Regions from separate parts of the Homo sapiens genome. Here region 1 is linked to region 2. A link means that fine-mapping ties the variant in region 2 to the plasma level of a protein whose gene starts in the linked region. Region 2 holds a variant in brackets. A gene starts in the other region. All regions are shown on their forward strands.

Region 1 (8,322 bases), not on the chromosome of region 2:
CAAAACAAGGAAAGAAGCAAAGAAACAAAACTCCTCTGATGATGTCAAGCCTCCACCGTTCATTCTGTGTTTATTTCATTGTATTTTTTAACTTTATTTATTTTTTTGGAGAGGGGTCTTGCTCTGTCGCCCAGGCTGGAGTGCAGTAGTGCGATCATAGCTCACCATAGCCTCCAATTCCTGGGTTCAAGCGTTCTACTCCCTGAGTTCAAGCCACCACCGCACCCTGCCTCAGCTTCCCAAAAAGTTGGGACCACAGGCACGTGCAATCGCGCCCAGCTCCACCATTCATTTTTTGTGTTAAGCATTGCTTTCAAGCTGTCTTCTTTTAAAATAGCCACATTCAGAAAAGTAATGCGCAGAATTCCTATACTTTGGTAGGATTTACGGTGAACCTGTTGCCCCTCCCTTTCTTTGCACATTTTATGTTTTCTGCTTCCCTGGCTGGTGAAATCTTCATCAGGACCCTGCTCAGTGTCGCCTCCTCTCTGCGGAGTCCTCCAACTCCACCTGGCTGGGCAGTTGTACTTTGTTCCTCCGTAATAAAAATAACCATTAAAAAAAAAAAGAAGCTGTTGTTTATTAAGCAATTACTATATGCCAGGCAATAGGATGTGCACTTTTCACTCACTATCTTGTTGAATACTTCCCAAGGGCCTCGTGAGGTCAGTTTTTTATGTATCCTTATTTTAAAGATGAGGAGACTGAGGTTCAGAGGGATTAAGCCCCTTACTCCTTTGGTAAGAAGTAGAACCAGGATAAAAACGCAGATGGCAGGACCACAAAATATGTGCTTTTAACCAGGACACCGCAATAGTATTCATCGTGCCCCAACGTACTCCAGGGAGAAAATGAAAGTGGGGTGACAGCAAATCTCAACCCAATGGAATGACCTCTTAAAGTTGAAAGGGAAGGTGTTTGGATCCTCCTGCATGGGTTCAAATCTCCTATGTGATAGAGTATGTTTCTGACTTCCAATAAAGGGCCTGCAGGCCTTAGAGATGTTCTAGCCCCTTGCTTTTCAATGTGTACTCCAGGGACCCCAGTATGAGCATCGCCTGGAAGCTTGTTAAAAATTCAGCATCTCAGGTCCTACTGCAGATCTGCTGAACCAGAATATGCACTTTAGCAAAATTTCTAAGTCAGTCCTGTGCATATTGAGTCTAAGAAATGGACTTAGAATGAAGACAATGCAAGTCTCAAGTGCGATAGGAGGATTGAGATCACCTCTGACAGGTGCTACATTGCTTCCCCCACACATTCACACATACACGTGCATACACACATATACAACGCACACACACTTTTCACTTACTTGCTTCTGAGGTGTCAGTGGCTGCAGTTGTGATGAACCAAGAGGCCACCACCACCATCAGCATCCAAGTCAGAGATGGCTGCCCCATCCTTTCTGCTCTTCCCGCTACTTCAGGTCTAGATAGCACCTGCCCAAAGGAAAGACGGGTTGGCCCTTTGAATTTTTCTCTCTGTCTCTGATGTCTGGTGTCCTGTGAACAGAGATGGATGGGACAAATGCATGATCTAACTCTCCTCCCCACAGCTGGAAGGAGTGCTTTGATTGTATAGTATACAACTCCAGGAGGTGTCACTTATATGGACTAAAAAATTGCATAACACTGCAGCCCTTGTTTTGCTGGGACTTTACCCCTTGTACTCCCCCTCCTTACCTCACCAACATCCCAGTCTTGGCTCCCCAATTCTCAGCACATTGCACATTTTGAAGAACTCAGTCATTTGGAGCAGGAAGTAGCCAGATGGAATAGTGTTCTGGACTCACCACTTTACTGAAGGCAGCTTTGGATTTTAACTGATCCTCTGCCTGGAAACTTTCAATTTGCCTGGATCACTTATTCATTCAACAAACATCTATTGAGTAGCTACATTGTGCCAAACAGGGAGCTAGTCACCATGGAGAACAATGAACATGGCAGTCTGCTCCTTCATGCAACTCACATATCGTAAAGAAGTGGCTTGAGACGAGCAACTTGAGAGGTAATTAACCTTCACAATGCATTTAAATGTTTCTGGAGTGGTCACTTACTATTTCTTCCAATTGGAAAAATAGTCCAGGGTGGATGCCAGTATTACCCCAGTGTTTATAGCAGCAAAATAGGGTGGCATGTTGGTTAAGTATGTAGGAGCTGCAGCCTGCACCTGAGGTTCAAATCCCTGCTTTACTGATCACTAACACTGTGATGTGGGTATTTCAGTTTACTAAGTCTCCGTTTTTGTCTGTGAAATGGAGATTGTTGCTTTCACAAACTGAATATCTATGATGGGCCAGGCTCAGTTCAAAGACATTCATGTGCTCAAAGGCATTGGGTCCTAGAGCAACGTTTTCCAGATCTTCGTGACCATGATGTACTAAAAGAAAAACATTTTATGTTGCCAGGTGCAGTGGCTCATGCCTGTAATCCCAACACTTTGGGAGACTGAGGGGGTGGATCACAAGGTCAGGAGTTTGAGACCAGCCTGGCCAGCATGGTGAAACCCCATCTCTAATAAAAATACAAAAATTAGCCGGGCATGGTGGTGGGCGCCTGTAATCCCAGCTACTCGGGAGGCTGAGACAGGAGGATTGCTTGAACCTGGGAGGCAGAGGTTGCAGTGAGCTGAGATCGTGCCACTGCACTCCTGCCTGGGTGACAGAGAGTCCATCCCCCCCCCCCAAAAAAAAAAAGACAGAAAGAAAGAAAAACATTTTATGTCATGATCTAGTGCAGTCGCTTCTGCATGTATGTGCACACACACATAAAATTTTATAAGACAATTGATATCCTTACTACATTAAGTGATTTAATTCTTACCACAACCCTATGAGATAAGTATTATCCTAGTTTGCAGATGAGAAAACAGGGGGACAAAGAGGCTAACTGCTTGCCTCAAATTTGTATTGCTTACTGACATATTCTATTATATTTAATTAAAAGAAGTCCCTGGATATAACCCACAAAAGGAATGATTTTATGACCCGCTAATAAGATGCGACCTAAAACACTGCATATTGTCACTGGGATTAACTAAGATGACATATGTCGAGCAGGGCCCAGCACATAGCAAGTTGTTCATTGTTGTAACCCTGGTACCTGGCACATAATAGGTGCATAACTAATATTCATGGAATAAGTCAAAAAATAGTAGTCATTGTTACTAGGACAGAGAGGATCAAAGAGAGGAAAACTAACTTACTAAAGATCATGAAGCCAATAATTGGCAGAATAATGACTCAAATCCAGGTCTGACCCCAGTGTCCAAGGTCTTAATTTCCTCTCCTACCTCCCTCAAATAGGATGGGGAGAAGCTGGGCTAGGAGAAGACAGCTACAGATAGCCTTACCTGAAGCCAGAAAGGTAGAGTTAGTCTGGTCATGATGTGCCTCATACTTATATATACACATTTGCCCCAGGCTGGCAATCTCTCCTCCAATTAGTCTCTAGTTCTGTTTTTTGATATTGTTTTCTTGGGGGTGGAATATTTTTTCCTCCTGGCATAATGTTTGCCTTGTCCAAGCTGTGAGGTTGTTGTTGTTCTTTTTCCTAATAGCTAGAGACCCCAAATGATTGACATTGGGGGGTCACACCTGTGCCCGGAAATACAAGGTCACTGTTTCGCACCTTCTAACAGCAAGAGATTCCATAGTTAGAAATTAACTGGGAAAGCAGTGCCAAGGTGCTGGGCTTCTTCTTGGTCACTGACAAGGGCAGGGTGGGATCAAGGAGCCAGGCAGAAGCCAGTATCTGAAGCCAGGCTGCATAAGGACAAAAGGGATATTCACTGCCCCAGATGGGAGGTGCACCTGTCTTGGAGAGGGCACCCTTCTGAAACACCCATTCTCATGAGATCAGCCTTAGAATCCAGACACAAGCAAGAGAGGAGCTGAGAATGGCTGAAAGTCAGAACCAGAAGGTAGTTCAGACATCACTGGACCTGACCCACTCTGTACAACAAAGAATCAGGTCTGATGACTGGGAGGTCCCTTTGGAGGCGAAATAAATTTGCACTTAAATAGACTGACTTTGGAGTCAGTCTGCCTCCTTTATCTGGTGTTTATTGTGTGGCAGTGGGCTCATTTCTTAACCTTCCTGAGGTCCAGAGGTCAATTTCCTTGTCTATAAAATGAGAATACCCATCTCCCACAGTAGTAATAGTAACCAAAGGAGATGATGCAAGTAAAGTCATATAGTAATGATTATATTCATGGAAGTAGTGAAAATTCTGCTTTGCTGTTGTGCAATCACTGAGGTAGAAAATGACAGAGCCTGAGTTAAAACCATGTCTTCAGACCCAGTTCAACATACATGACATTCCAAAAGTCAGTGTGAGAGTGGCTGTCATCATGTTGAGAAAAATAAAATATGTGTGAACTTGGGCTGAGCAGGAAAATATCACCATGATCACTGCATTGATCTTTTTTTTTTTTATACTTTAAGTTTTAGGGTACAAGTGCACAACGTGCAGGTTTGTTACATATGTATACATGTGCCATGTTGATGTGCTGCACCCATTAACTTGTCATTTACATTAGGTATAACTCCTAATGCTATCCCTCCCCGCTCCCCGCATCCCACAATAGGCCCCTGGGTGTGATGTTCCCCTTCCTGTGTCCAAGTGCTCTCATTGTTCAATTCCCACCTGTGAGTGAGAACATGCGGTGTTTGGTTTTTTGTCCTTGCGATAGTTTGCTGAGAATGATGGTTTCCATCTTCATCCATGTCCCTACAAAGGACATGAACTCATATTTTTTATGGCTGCATAGTATTCCACGGTGTATATGTGCCACATTTTCTTAATCCAGTCTATCATTGATGGACATTTGAGTTGGTTCCAAGTCTTTGCTATTGTGAATTGCTCTTTTCAGGACATTTCTCCATCCTGTCCCACTCAGTGGTAGGGTAACCACTGGCACTGGTGTTGTCATCTCCTCAGGATTATGTCCAAGGAGTGGAAATTCTGGGTCAAAGAGGTAGCACAGCTGTAGGAATATTGACTCCTCTTCCCAAACAGCACCCCAGAGAATTATTATAAATTGGTTTACAATCCCACCAACACTACTCACCAGTTCTGAGCATTGGTAACTTGCTTTCATCTTTGCCAAAAGGATAAGTGGAAACGATCTCATTATTGTTCATTTTTGCAATTCTTTGATGAAAAGGGAAGTTATCTCTTCATTTATTTACTTTTTTTTTTCTGAACTAGTCGTTTTTATCCTATACCTTTTTCATGAGGCCTTGTCTAAACCTTATTATGGGTGTCTTCAAAGGATTAAAGACAGTGACCCCAGGTGGCTTCTGGAGTTTTCTTGACAAAGACTTGGGCAGGAAAATGGGGAGTTTGGGTTGGAATCTATTCATAAGTGTAATCACCATGCTTTCTAGTTTCTGTATTTGGTGCTTGTACATTTTGGGGCCTTACTGATCATGGAGGGACTGCCCCTCCCAGGGCTCAATAATTACTAGAGATCAAAAACGACTTATCTGTGAATGTGCCTTTCCGACTGCAAATCAATCAATCCAGACCACATACCCCCAACCCTTGGCCTCCTTTTTGGGGCTTTTACACTTAGGGTCACTACTTGCTGCTTTAGATCACCCCAAGGGACCAGGTACCAGACAACTAGAGACAACTCCTATGGCCCAGAGGTCTCTGAAATTATTCAAACTAAGCCAATCCTAAATCTGCTTACCTTGCCTCTCCCATTCCTTCCTGCAGAAACTACAATAAAGGCTCTTTCCTGCCTTTTCCCTTGCTCTCTTTGCTTCCTGACCGACCCTGGTACTTCCCAGCAGCTCTTCCTCTCCCTTCAGCCCCTCTGCCCAGTGTGGTGTGTCCCCTTCTCTTGGGATCTGTGAGTATAACAAGTTGTCAGTGGCCATAATTTCCTGCTCTGTTGCTCATCAAGTTCACCAAAGACATCCATGTTACCAAATTCAATCAATATTTTTCTCTTTATCTTACCTCTAGGACAGTGCACAATAAATATTTGTTTTTGAACGAACCTTAATCTCTCAGCACTTCGCTCTTGAAACACTCTTCTTTCTTTCTTTCTTTTTCTTCTTCTTTTTTTTTTTTTTAATGGAGTCTTGCTCTGTCACCCAGGTTGGAGTGCAGTGGCTCAGTCTTGGCTCACTGCAACCTCCACCTCCCAAGTTCAAGTGATTCTCTTGAATCCTTGAATCCTCAGCCTCCCGAGTAGCTGGGATTACAGGTGCATACCACCATGCCCGGCTAATTTGTGTTTTTTTTGTACACATTGGCCAGGCTGGTCTCGAACTCCTGACCTCAGGTAATCTGCCTGCCTCGGCCTCCCAAAGTGCTGGGATTACAGACATGAGCCACCACAACCAGCCTGAAACACTTTTCTCTCTTAACTTTCAAACATGGGTAGGAGACTTGATCTTAATAATGCTGAGAACAATCACCCACTGAGCACTTCTCTTGGGTCAGACACTGTGCTCAGTGCTTTTGCCTCCATTGTCTCAAACAATGAAACACAACAACCCACGTCACAGGGAAGAAGACAAGTTCAGAGAGGTGGAGTAACTCCCCCAAGATTACACAGCTAGCGAGTGTTAAATCCAGACTAAAACTCAAATCTCACTCAGATTTACCTGCATTCCTTGGGTTACAGAACATTCCATGCTCAGCCATGACAGGGTCTTAGAAGGATAAGTGGTTTTAGGTAGTTTTGGAAAGAGTGAAACTAAAGGGTGGAGAGTTTTGAAAAATTGATCAAACAGAACACAAAAACTTAGAATGAGAGGTTGGTGTGTGTCAGAAAGCGGCAAAAAATGAGCCAAGGGAGAAGATCCCCCAAAAGAGGGGTATTACCTGTCCCACCTACCTCTCTGAGCACACACCTCCTGAGGCTCCAGTTACGCCTGGGGGACCTGGAGGTGGCACACCCATTCTCTGGCTCGTGGCCTGTCAGGGGCTCTATGCCACATGATCTAGTCTAGGCAGCCCCCCGTAACCCTCCTTCAACTGGCAGCCACATGACCTCAAGGCCGAGGCAGGTGAGCCTTACACCGTGTCCTGAATACTAACACCTGCTCCTGTTGGGGAATTCGGCTCAGGTGAGTTCCAGAGCCGCAGGCTGTTCCCTGCTTCCTCTGGTTGTGGACAGGCCAGGTTCAGGGTGAGGGGCATGGGAGCTGTCTCTGGAGGTATGAGAAAGCACAAATAGCCTTTGCCTTACATGACAGGTGAGGAGTGGAGAGACCCAGGTGGTTTCTAGAGACCTCAATTTCTAAAAGAATGCTGCCCTTCTTTTCTCAAGAGAAGGCCTGGCTGAAATGAATGACACAAATCCATGAGTTAAATCTGTGGTAGGCTGAATAATGACCCCCAAATACGTTCACCTCTGAATCCCCAAACCTGTGTGTGTTGCCTTTTATGGCAAAAGGGACTGTGCAGTGTGATTACAGATCCTGAGATGGAGAGGTTGTCTGGGCAGGCTGGATGCAATCACAGTGGTGCCTATAAAAGTGATGCAGGAGGAGTCAGAGGAAGTAGGTGTAAGGATGAAATGAAAAGTCAGAGTGATTCTAGGACAGAACCATAAACCAAGGAATGCAGGGGCCTCCCAGAAGCTAGAAAAGGCATAGCAGGGAATTCATCCAAAAGGGACTAACTCGTGAATTTAGTCCAGTGGAATTGATTTCTAATTTCTAGCCTCCAGAACTCTAAGAGAGTAAGTTTGTGTTGTTTTAAGCCACTTAAGTGTTAATTTGTCAGATCAAAAATAGGGAACGAATACAGATTCCAGTTTGGATCTGGGGACAACACTGTCAGCACCTCTGCCTTTTGGGATGACTATGAAATTATGTATTTCTCACCTAAAATGGAATATTTGATTGATCCACGAGCATTTATTGAGCATCTACTATGTGTCAAGCAGAGTTCTAGGCAAAGGGAATACGGCAAGAAAAAAAACAATAGATATATCTACTTTCGTGGAGCTTACATATTAATTGGAGAATCAGGCAATATATCATTGCACAACAAAATAAGATGCTTTCAATTTTTAGTCTCCAGGAATGCCTTTTGGAGGTGGTGACAGGTGAGCTGAGATTTGAACCAAGAAAAGAACATGGCTATGTGAGGAACTGGGGGAAATGTATTTTGAAGGGAGTGCATTTAGGCAGAGGGAACATGAGGAGAGAGTGAATTTGGCTTGTTCATAGAGTAGACAGGAAGTGTGGCTGGGGCCTAGAATGTGAGGGGGAGAGGGAGAGGAGGAGATCTGTGGGGCCAGACCTTTCAAGGTGTTGAAGGCATGGTAGGCAGACTAGATTTTATTCTAAA
Region 2 (8,333 bases):
TGTCACATTAGACATTTCACTTGTGTCTGTTTGGTCTCCCTAACCAGACTGTCATCAGAATATAAATATGGCTTCAGTTTGGTTAGTGTTTTTCCTTAATTCTATCATATTAAGTAATGCCTCACTAATTTCTGCAAGCCAGACTGTTTCCATCATCTTTAAAGGGGGAGTCCAAATTATTTGACCTAATAAAAGGTTGTTGTGTTGAGCGAAAGAAGCCAGACCCAAGAGTGCATATTGAATTATTCCATTTACACAAGATTTTTTTTAAAAAAACCAGACAAAACTAATATATCTGTTAGAAACCAGGGCAACGGTTACCTTAGGCAGAGGTGGTAACTAGAATGGAGTGTGAGAGATGTTTCTGGTGTGTTGATAATGCTCTGTTTCTTGATCTGGAGACTAGTTATGTGGGTGTGTTCCACTTGCAAAAAAATGCATCGAGCTCAAGATAAGTGTGCTTTTCCGTAAGGATATTTCATCTCAATAGAAAATTTGGCTTTTGTGTCAACTCTGCCTAAAGTAAGTGGGAAACTACAAAAACTGGGGACTTGGACATCTTTTAATCAAACTATGTATCAATGTCATTTCAAAGGTTTTGTTATGTGTCATCTTCCTTGAATGAGAATGGCAACAAGTTTTTTTTTTATCACACAGATTTCCTATGTGCCTTTTTTCCCCAGTCCTGATAGTCTATGAACCAACCAAACTTAGGGAAAAGTAAAACAGTTAAGTCCTGTATTTCCACCTTATTTACAATATAATGCCCTCTACAGAAAATAATCACAGAAACACAGAAAATGACTTCTCCAGAGATGAGAAATGTGCATGTGACGCCACTCTGAGTTATCTCCTTCAAGAAGTATGTATTCTATAATCTGGGAGAAGAGTAAATTAACACTCCAACTCCAAAGATCAATAATTATAATATGAGAGAGACAACAGTGGAAAGAATGAATGTCCTCAGGCTTAATTTACTAGCAGGAAAGAACAGTCAGAGGAAAAAAAAAAAAAAAAAAGACCGAGAACACTGAGCTCTCTTCTGGAATGGCAGAAGGACCACTTTCTCCTGCATAAATGAAGGCAGGGCTAATACAAAACGTTTTCTGGGTATTATTTAACCTCTCCTACCCAGGCTATTTTAGCTCAGTAGGAAATTCACCCACTAGGTGGACCTTGGAGTTCATCCACCACCCCAATAAAGATTGCCTTTCTTATTTGAAGTGATGATCACTTCTTCCAAGCAAACCAACAAACCCTAGGTATTCAACCTCTGATAACCTGCCTACTAAGGAACTTCAGTGGAATCAGGGGATCAACGATGCTGTCCCCAAACTGGCCTAAGGTGAACCAAGGGGAGAAGTTAACAGCAGCACTTAAATTGATCTACTCATACTCAAGGATTACTGAGTCTTCTGGGCAAGAAAAGAAAGCAATTACAAACTACCAATAAGGACAGGTGTTTTGAAAATAGCGAAAAAAAAATGTCCCCTACACTTCCTTTCAAAGGTAGCCTCAGAGCTAGTCTGGCTGCGCAGATGACCAGTGAAAATAAATGAAAACTGCAGTACGGTTATAGATGATCCTTACACCTCAGCTTGTTCTCAATTGCAAAAAAAAAAAAAAAAAAAAAAAATGCATATAATCTAACACTCTCCTGTCTAAATTGCTTCAAACTTTCTCAGAACGACCTTCATCGTGGCGGATTCTTTTTCTGCAAACCTTTACAGGTTGCACCTGCTTCACACAGAACCAGCGGAAACAAACTAGGAGGAGATAAAAGAGAAGAAGTAGGAAGGTTTAAACCAACACAAGTCGATTTTGTACCCAAAAAAAAAAAAAAGTTTAGTCTAAAAAGGGAGGTCCAGTGAGGAACAAGACAGAGGGTGAAACAGAAGTCTGGCTTACTCCCAAGGCAGAAATCATGACTCATCAAAGCTTTCAGAGGGGACAGAACCAGACTTTGCATTTGTCTTGAGGTCATCTTCGAGCCAAGAAATGCTCTCTTAACCGGGACCTGAGAACTTTAAGGGTCTGCGACAACTGGCTGTGAGGCCTTGGGCAAAACCTCTAACGTCTCTGGGGCTCGGTTTCCTCATCAGGTGAAGCCAGGGTCCACTCTAGCTTTAATAGTCTCTCCTCGAGATTCCCGGCCCCATACTAAAGGGACCTGGTCCACTGGGGGGAGCTGCAGAACTTCCCTCTTCTCACAAACTCCAGGGCCCTGGGGCCCCAACTCTCGGGAGATGCTGAAGTCTTGGAGGAAGTTGGTTCTGCCGGCTCGGGGAGAGGGTGCAAGAGCAACCCTCTTTGTGAAACGGGGCCGCGACTCCACGAGTCCTGTCTCTACGGACCCTACTCCCTGTGATTCCGGAAGCACCTCCCTACCCCTTCCCCAGGTTTACATGCTCCAGAGATGAGGGCCAAGCGGATACCGGGGCAAACTAGCGTGGGGCTCAAGGAGGCACACAGAGCAGTGGTCTCAGTCCTCGAGACCACTCCTGCCAAGAGGAGGGCTGGAGAAGTCGGGAGAGGTGCCGGGAGCGGGGGAGAGGCGCGTAGGACAAGGCAGGAGGAGGGCGGCCCTTATCGGTTCCCTATAGGACTGGCTTCGCTGCCGGGGTCGGAGATTCCTCGGCGCGGAGCTAGGGGCGGGTCCGGAGGCGGAGGCGACAGCGCCCGGCGGGGTACGCGCGGCTGCGACCCCGTCACTCCCCCGCCGCCTCCGCCCCTAACCCTCGGCCCCGTGCGCGAGCGAGCGAGGGAGCGAACGCAGCGCAACAAAACAAACTAGTGCCGGCTTCCTGTTGTGCAACTCGCTCCTGAGTGAGTCGGGGGCCGAAAGGGTGCTGCGGCTGGGAAGCCCGGGCGCCGGGGACCTGCGCGCGCTGCCCGGCCTGGCCGGAGCCTGTAGCCCGGGGGCGCCACGGCCGGGCTCGCAGTCCCCCCACGCCGGCCCCCCGGTCCCCGCCGAGCCAGTGTCCTCACCCTGTGGTTTCCTTTCGCTTCTCGCCTCCCAAACACCTCCAGCAAGTCGGAGGGCGCGAACGCGGAGCCAGAAACCCTTCCCCAAAGTTTCTCCCGCCAGGTACCTAATTGAATCATCCATAGGATGACAAATCAGCCAGGGCCAAGATTTCCAGACACTTGAGTGACTTCCCGGTCCCCGAGGTGACTTGTCAGCTCCAGTGAGTAACTTGGAACTGTCGCTCGGGGCAAGGTGTGTGTCTAGGAGAGAGCCGGCGGCTCACTCACGCTTTCCAGAGAGCGACCCGGGCCGACTTCAAAATACACACAGGGTCATTTATAGGGACTGGAGCCGCGCGCAGGACAACGTCTCCGAGACTGAGACATTTTCCAAACAGTGCTGACATTTTGTCGGGCCCCATAAAAAATGTAAACGCGAGGTGACGAACCCGGCGGGGAGGGTTCGTGTCTGGCTGTGTCTGCGTCCTGGCGGCGTGGGAGGTTATAGTTCCAGACCTGGCGGCTGCGGATCGCCGGGCCGGTACCCGCGAGGAGTGTAGGTACCCTCAGCCCGACCACCTCCCGCAATCATGGGGACACCGGCTTGGATGAGACACAGGCGTGGAAAACAGCCTTCGTGAAACTCCACAAACACGTGGAACTTGAAAAGACAACTACAGCCCCGCGTGTGCGCGA[G/C]AGACCTCACGTCACCCCATCAGTTCCCACTTCGCCAAAGTTTCCCTTCAGTGGGGACTCCAGAGTGGTGCGCCCCATGCCCGTGCGTCCTGTAACGTGCCCTGATTGTGTACCCCTCTGCCCGCTCTACTTGAAATGAAAACACAAAAACTGTTCCGAATTAGCGCAACTTTAAAGCCCCGTTATCTGTCTTCTACACTGGGCGCTCTTAGGCCACTGACAGAAACATGGTTTGAACCCTAATTGTTGCTATCAGTCTCAGTCAGCGCAGGTCTCTCAGTGACCTGTGACGCCGGGAGTTGAGGTGCGCGTATCCTTAAACCCGCGCGAACGCCACCGGCTCAGCGTAGAAAACTATTTGTAATCCCTAGTTTGCGTCTCTGAGCTTTAACTCCCCCACACTCTCAAGCGCCCGGTTTCTCCTCGTCTCTCGCCTGCGAGCAAAGTTCCTATGGCATCCACTTACCAGGTAACCGGGATTTCCACAACAAAGCCCGGCGTGCGGGTCCCTTCCCCCGGCCGGCCAGCGCGAGTGACAGCGGGCGGCCGGCGCTGGCGAGGAGTAACTTGGGGCTCCAGCCCTTCAGAGCGCTCCGCGGGCTGTGCCTCCTTCGGAAATGAAAACCCCCATCCAAACGGGGGGACGGAGCGCGGAAACCCGGCCCAAGTGCCGTGTGTGCGCGCGCGTCTGCGAGGGCAGCGGCGGCAGGGGGAGGAGGAGGCAGAGGCGGGGTGGCTGGACCCTCGGCATCAGCTCATTCTCCCCTGCTACACACATACACACACAAATAATGTTTCTAAAAAGTTCAGTTGCGACTTTGTGCCTCGCCTGTCCTGTTCATCCTCGTCCTGGGCCGGGGAATGCTTCTGGGGGCCGACCCCGGGATGCTGGCTAATTGCTGCCGGCGGGTTCCGTCGCCGGTGTGACCCTGGACGGCGCGGACGGCGTACAGGGGGTCCCGGGAGGGGCAGTGGCCGCGGCACTCGCCGCCGGTGCCCGTGCGCGCCGCGCTCTGGGCTGCCCGGGCGGCGCAGTGTGGACGCGGCTGCAGGGAGAGGGGAAGGGGGAAGAGGGAGGGAGGAAGGCAGCCGGGCGAGGAGTGTGGATGTGTGTGCGGCCGCGAGGGCCGGCCTGTAGCCAGCTGCTTCCTGAGTGTGAGCGCCGGAGGGGGAGGGGGAAGAGTGGGGGCGGGCTCGCGGGTCACTAGGCTGGCCAATTCGAAGGCCGAGCTTGTGTCTCCCTCTTGACGCATTCACACACACACACACACACACACACACACACACACACACTCCCCGTGCGCCAGAAGTCGAGGAACTCCAGAACAGGGTAACAGCAGGGAGACACTTCGCCTTCTTCCTGGCCTTATTTGTTAAACTGACTTATTTTAACATGAAAAAGTGTTAGTGTTTAGACAGGATTTGATGTCAGGTCATAAAAAAATAAACAAACAACCAAAAAAATCCGGTAGTAATACGGAGAGAATAACACAGTGAAAAATGGCAAAAGGGTTGCTTTGAAATATCGGATCGGATGCACATGACAGCTTCGAAACTGGATAGGTGAAGCACTAAGGAAGGCTTTGGCATCCTTTCCAAGTATAGGCAGGGAAGAGAGGAAGGTGATGGAAGTGTTAGAAGGGTATAAAATTCTGAACACAGGCTGTTAAGAATGGAGGTATATTCCCTGCGTATGTTACGTCTATAAAGTGGCACTTTATCCTTATGAATTCAACATCCTCAGCCTCATACCCCACCTAAGCTCTGACTCGCCACCGCTTCTGCTTGTGTTGACCAGAGCCCTCAAAAGGTTGTTACAAGAAAGTCTGCTCCTAGTAGTTCATCACATGTATTGCCACAGATGCAAGGACTTCCATCTTGGGAATCTAGGTATGTAATGCACACAATATCCTCCAGGTAGGCCTTTCTGCAGTTGACAGTATTATTCACCATCATGAATGAAATGAGTGAGGATGCCACCAGACACTTAGAATTTCACAAGTCCTTATATTCTATTCTACTGTTACCACTCCAATATAAATTAGCAATCAGGTAGTAGATGCTTTGATCAAGACAGAAGTCCTCAAGGACACAAATGACTTACCCCAGAAAGCCAAAACTAAAAGACTATTGGCAGTTTTCATTTATCTAATTTCAGTGGGAATACTACTAGGCTTGGTCTGTATCCATGATATTAACATAACCAAAAGAAGCCTGGTTTCCACAGTACTTTTTCTTTTCTTTTCCTTCACCTTGGGACACAAACTCATCAGAATATTTGTCAGCAGAAGTAGGGGATGAAAAATAGTAAGAGGTCAGGATATGTCATTCTGTCAGTTTTCCAGTTTCTCTCTGTTCATCTCTTTTAAATACAAGTATTCAAGCCCAAGATGGCAATAGATGGGCTCAACCACACGTAAGAAAAGAAAATACTCATAAAATGAAGCATGCAGCAACATCACAAAAACAAAGAAACCAAGTGGTGGAAATTGCCATGACTATTCCATTGTGGCTAGTTATTGCAACATGCCTGACATTCACATAAAAACTCTTCCTCATTAACTCCAGCCTTAAGGAACAGAGCAAGATGGCAACACTAACCCTTCAATGCATCATGGGAACTTCTGTTCATCAGATTCTTGTGCTGTACAACTGCTTCCCAGGAGCAAGACAAGCCTGGGTGGAGACTGCAAAAAACCTTTCCAATGTCCCTCAAATATCATTTTAAATACAATGGTTTTGATGCATAGAATGGTATCCTAGGGGCTTGCAGAAGCTTCTAAAACTTCCCAAATGATGGGAACAGCTTAGCTGGAAGAGAAAAAAATATAGTGCTACACCCAACTTTAATCAATAGCTCATGGAAAAAAACACTGGGAAAGTTAGGAGTCATCAACCTGGAGATCCCCAAAATCTCTTCATTTATAAGAGCCCAAGAGTGGGAATGTCATTTTATTTAGGTGTGATTTTCATGAACCTCTAACATTCCTAAAATATTTACCACTGAAGAGGTATAGTGCTTTGGTTGAATTTTTTTCTTTTTTTTTTTTTCTGGCCAAGAATGTAGATCTGCAATGTTCTTATATTCCATGGGTTATAGTAAAAATGCAGTTGTTCTTGTACCAGTACAACCCTGGAATGACTCAGAATGAGATCTGTACCTCTTCTGGGCTGAATTGGTCAGCAGGGGTGAGGGAGGGTGGTAATGAGAGACAGTGAGAAAGGAAATCATGTAGTTCCAAAATGATACTCTCCCTTACCCATGAGCTCTCCATCGTGCTTAGGAATCATACTCTGGCAGCCCTTCAGCCAGATAGGTGGGAACTGCAGCCCAGTCAGTATCTTCCCTCTCTAGAGACCAGTGTTGTATGTGCCTCAACCGCTGACTCAGGGCAGCTGACTCAGCAGACAGGCCCCTGCTGCCAGCTCCAGTCCAGTTCTCATTCATCAGAGAAATATTCAGTGAGTACACACTCTGTCCAAGTATTGGGACTAAAGGAATTAACACTTGTAGGCATTGTATATGGGAGGATATTACAGAAAACTTTTTGCCCAGTGTCTTAGTTGTAGCAAACCCTCAAGAAATGGGGACTCTTTGCATATATTACCTCATCTAATTCTCAAATCAAATGTATGATGTGGCTATGAATAATCTCCTACTTAGAAGCAAAGAAGTTGAAGCTCAGTAAACAGTTAAAGAGAGTCAGAGACAGAGCCAAGTATGCCAGTTTAGAAGCCCCAAGTTCAATCAACATTACTGTACTACAGAATAATTGTGCATGCTCTTTGAATGTGTATAAAACATATTGCAGGTGTATAAAGTGCAAAGCATCTTGTGGTCAGTGTTAGATGAGCACAATGAAGTTTGTAGGGAGTGTGGAGGAGGCAGGAATAATTTCCTGCAATGTGACATGGAGTAGCTTGGCTGTTTGAGCTGGACTTCAAAGAATGAGTAGAGAAGTGATAAGCAAAGGAGACCATTTCAAGTATAGGAATCAGCATCAAAAGGGGCACAGAAGGCATAAGTCCTGCATAGCAAGCAGCTCACTCAAAGCTAGAGTACAAAATAGGAACATCCACTGTCTCACAGCAATGAAACTCTCCCGAAGGAACATCCTGACAGCAAAACTTCAGAACTGCTATTTGAGTCACCCTGAGTGCTCTGACAGTAAACCACTTACAAACTTGCAAAGAACTATGATCAGATTCCTCCTCCCACAAAGTGTCCGTGAAAAGAAACAAATTTGAACCCCAAAATACAGATAAGTTGAGCTAATAGCACCAGTGATAGTATGCCTAGCTATTAAAACACAGACACACACACACACACACACACGAGCTGGCAACAGTCCAGTTACGTAGAAATGCAGTGGAAAAAGTTAGTGTTTGCCAACTTTAAGGGGGGAACTAAATGTGTAAAATGGAAAATTTCCATTTTACTTTCCTGAGTAGTACAAATAGTGGAATGCAGCAAATTTCACATTATGTTATCAGTGTGTGATATACTAAGAAAACTTAAGCTGATTTTTCTACTAATTTGTCACAAGTATGTTCAGCCCAAACTCTTCGGCTCACATACATGTCAGTGATGTAATTTTTTAAAAAATTCTTATTTACACATATCGCATTCACAACATCATACCTCTTTTCCTTTCTAAAGTCAAAACTGT

Direction of the effects. Alleles are on the strand shown, and positions count from the first base shown. The strength of an association depends on the size of the effect and on how common the allele is.
With allele G in place of C in region 2, the plasma level of the protein whose gene starts at base 3,381 in region 1 is higher (weak association).

The links. A credible set is the group of variants that fine-mapping cannot tell apart. PIP is the posterior inclusion probability: the model's chance that the variant is causal. The UK Biobank Pharma Proteomics Project read protein levels with antibody pairs (Olink). The fine-mapping took linkage between variants from a reference panel, not from the people measured, so its PIPs are less certain.
Region 1: UMOD starts here. The variant in region 2 is the best candidate, but not a certain one, in a credible set for the plasma level of the UMOD protein (UK Biobank, PIP 0.73).

Annotation. Positions count from the first base shown.
Region 1 is chr16:20,349,335-20,357,656 of GRCh38, forward strand. It overlaps UMOD (uromodulin), which reads right to left and starts at 3,381. Exons shown (of 11, transcript NM_003361.4): 1 at 3,355-3,381; 2 at 1,316-1,505. The coding sequence starts at 1,403.
Region 2 is chr9:4,295,292-4,303,624 of GRCh38, forward strand. It overlaps GLIS3 (GLIS family zinc finger 3), which reads right to left and starts at 4,777. Exons shown (of 11, transcript NM_001042413.2): 1 at 4,130-4,777. It overlaps GLIS3-AS2 (GLIS3 antisense RNA 2), which reads left to right and starts at 4,010. Exons shown (of 4, transcript NR_186824.1): 1 at 4,010-4,132. RefSeq lists an enhancer at 1,778-2,072. The variant G/C (reference allele first, on the strand shown) is at 3,664.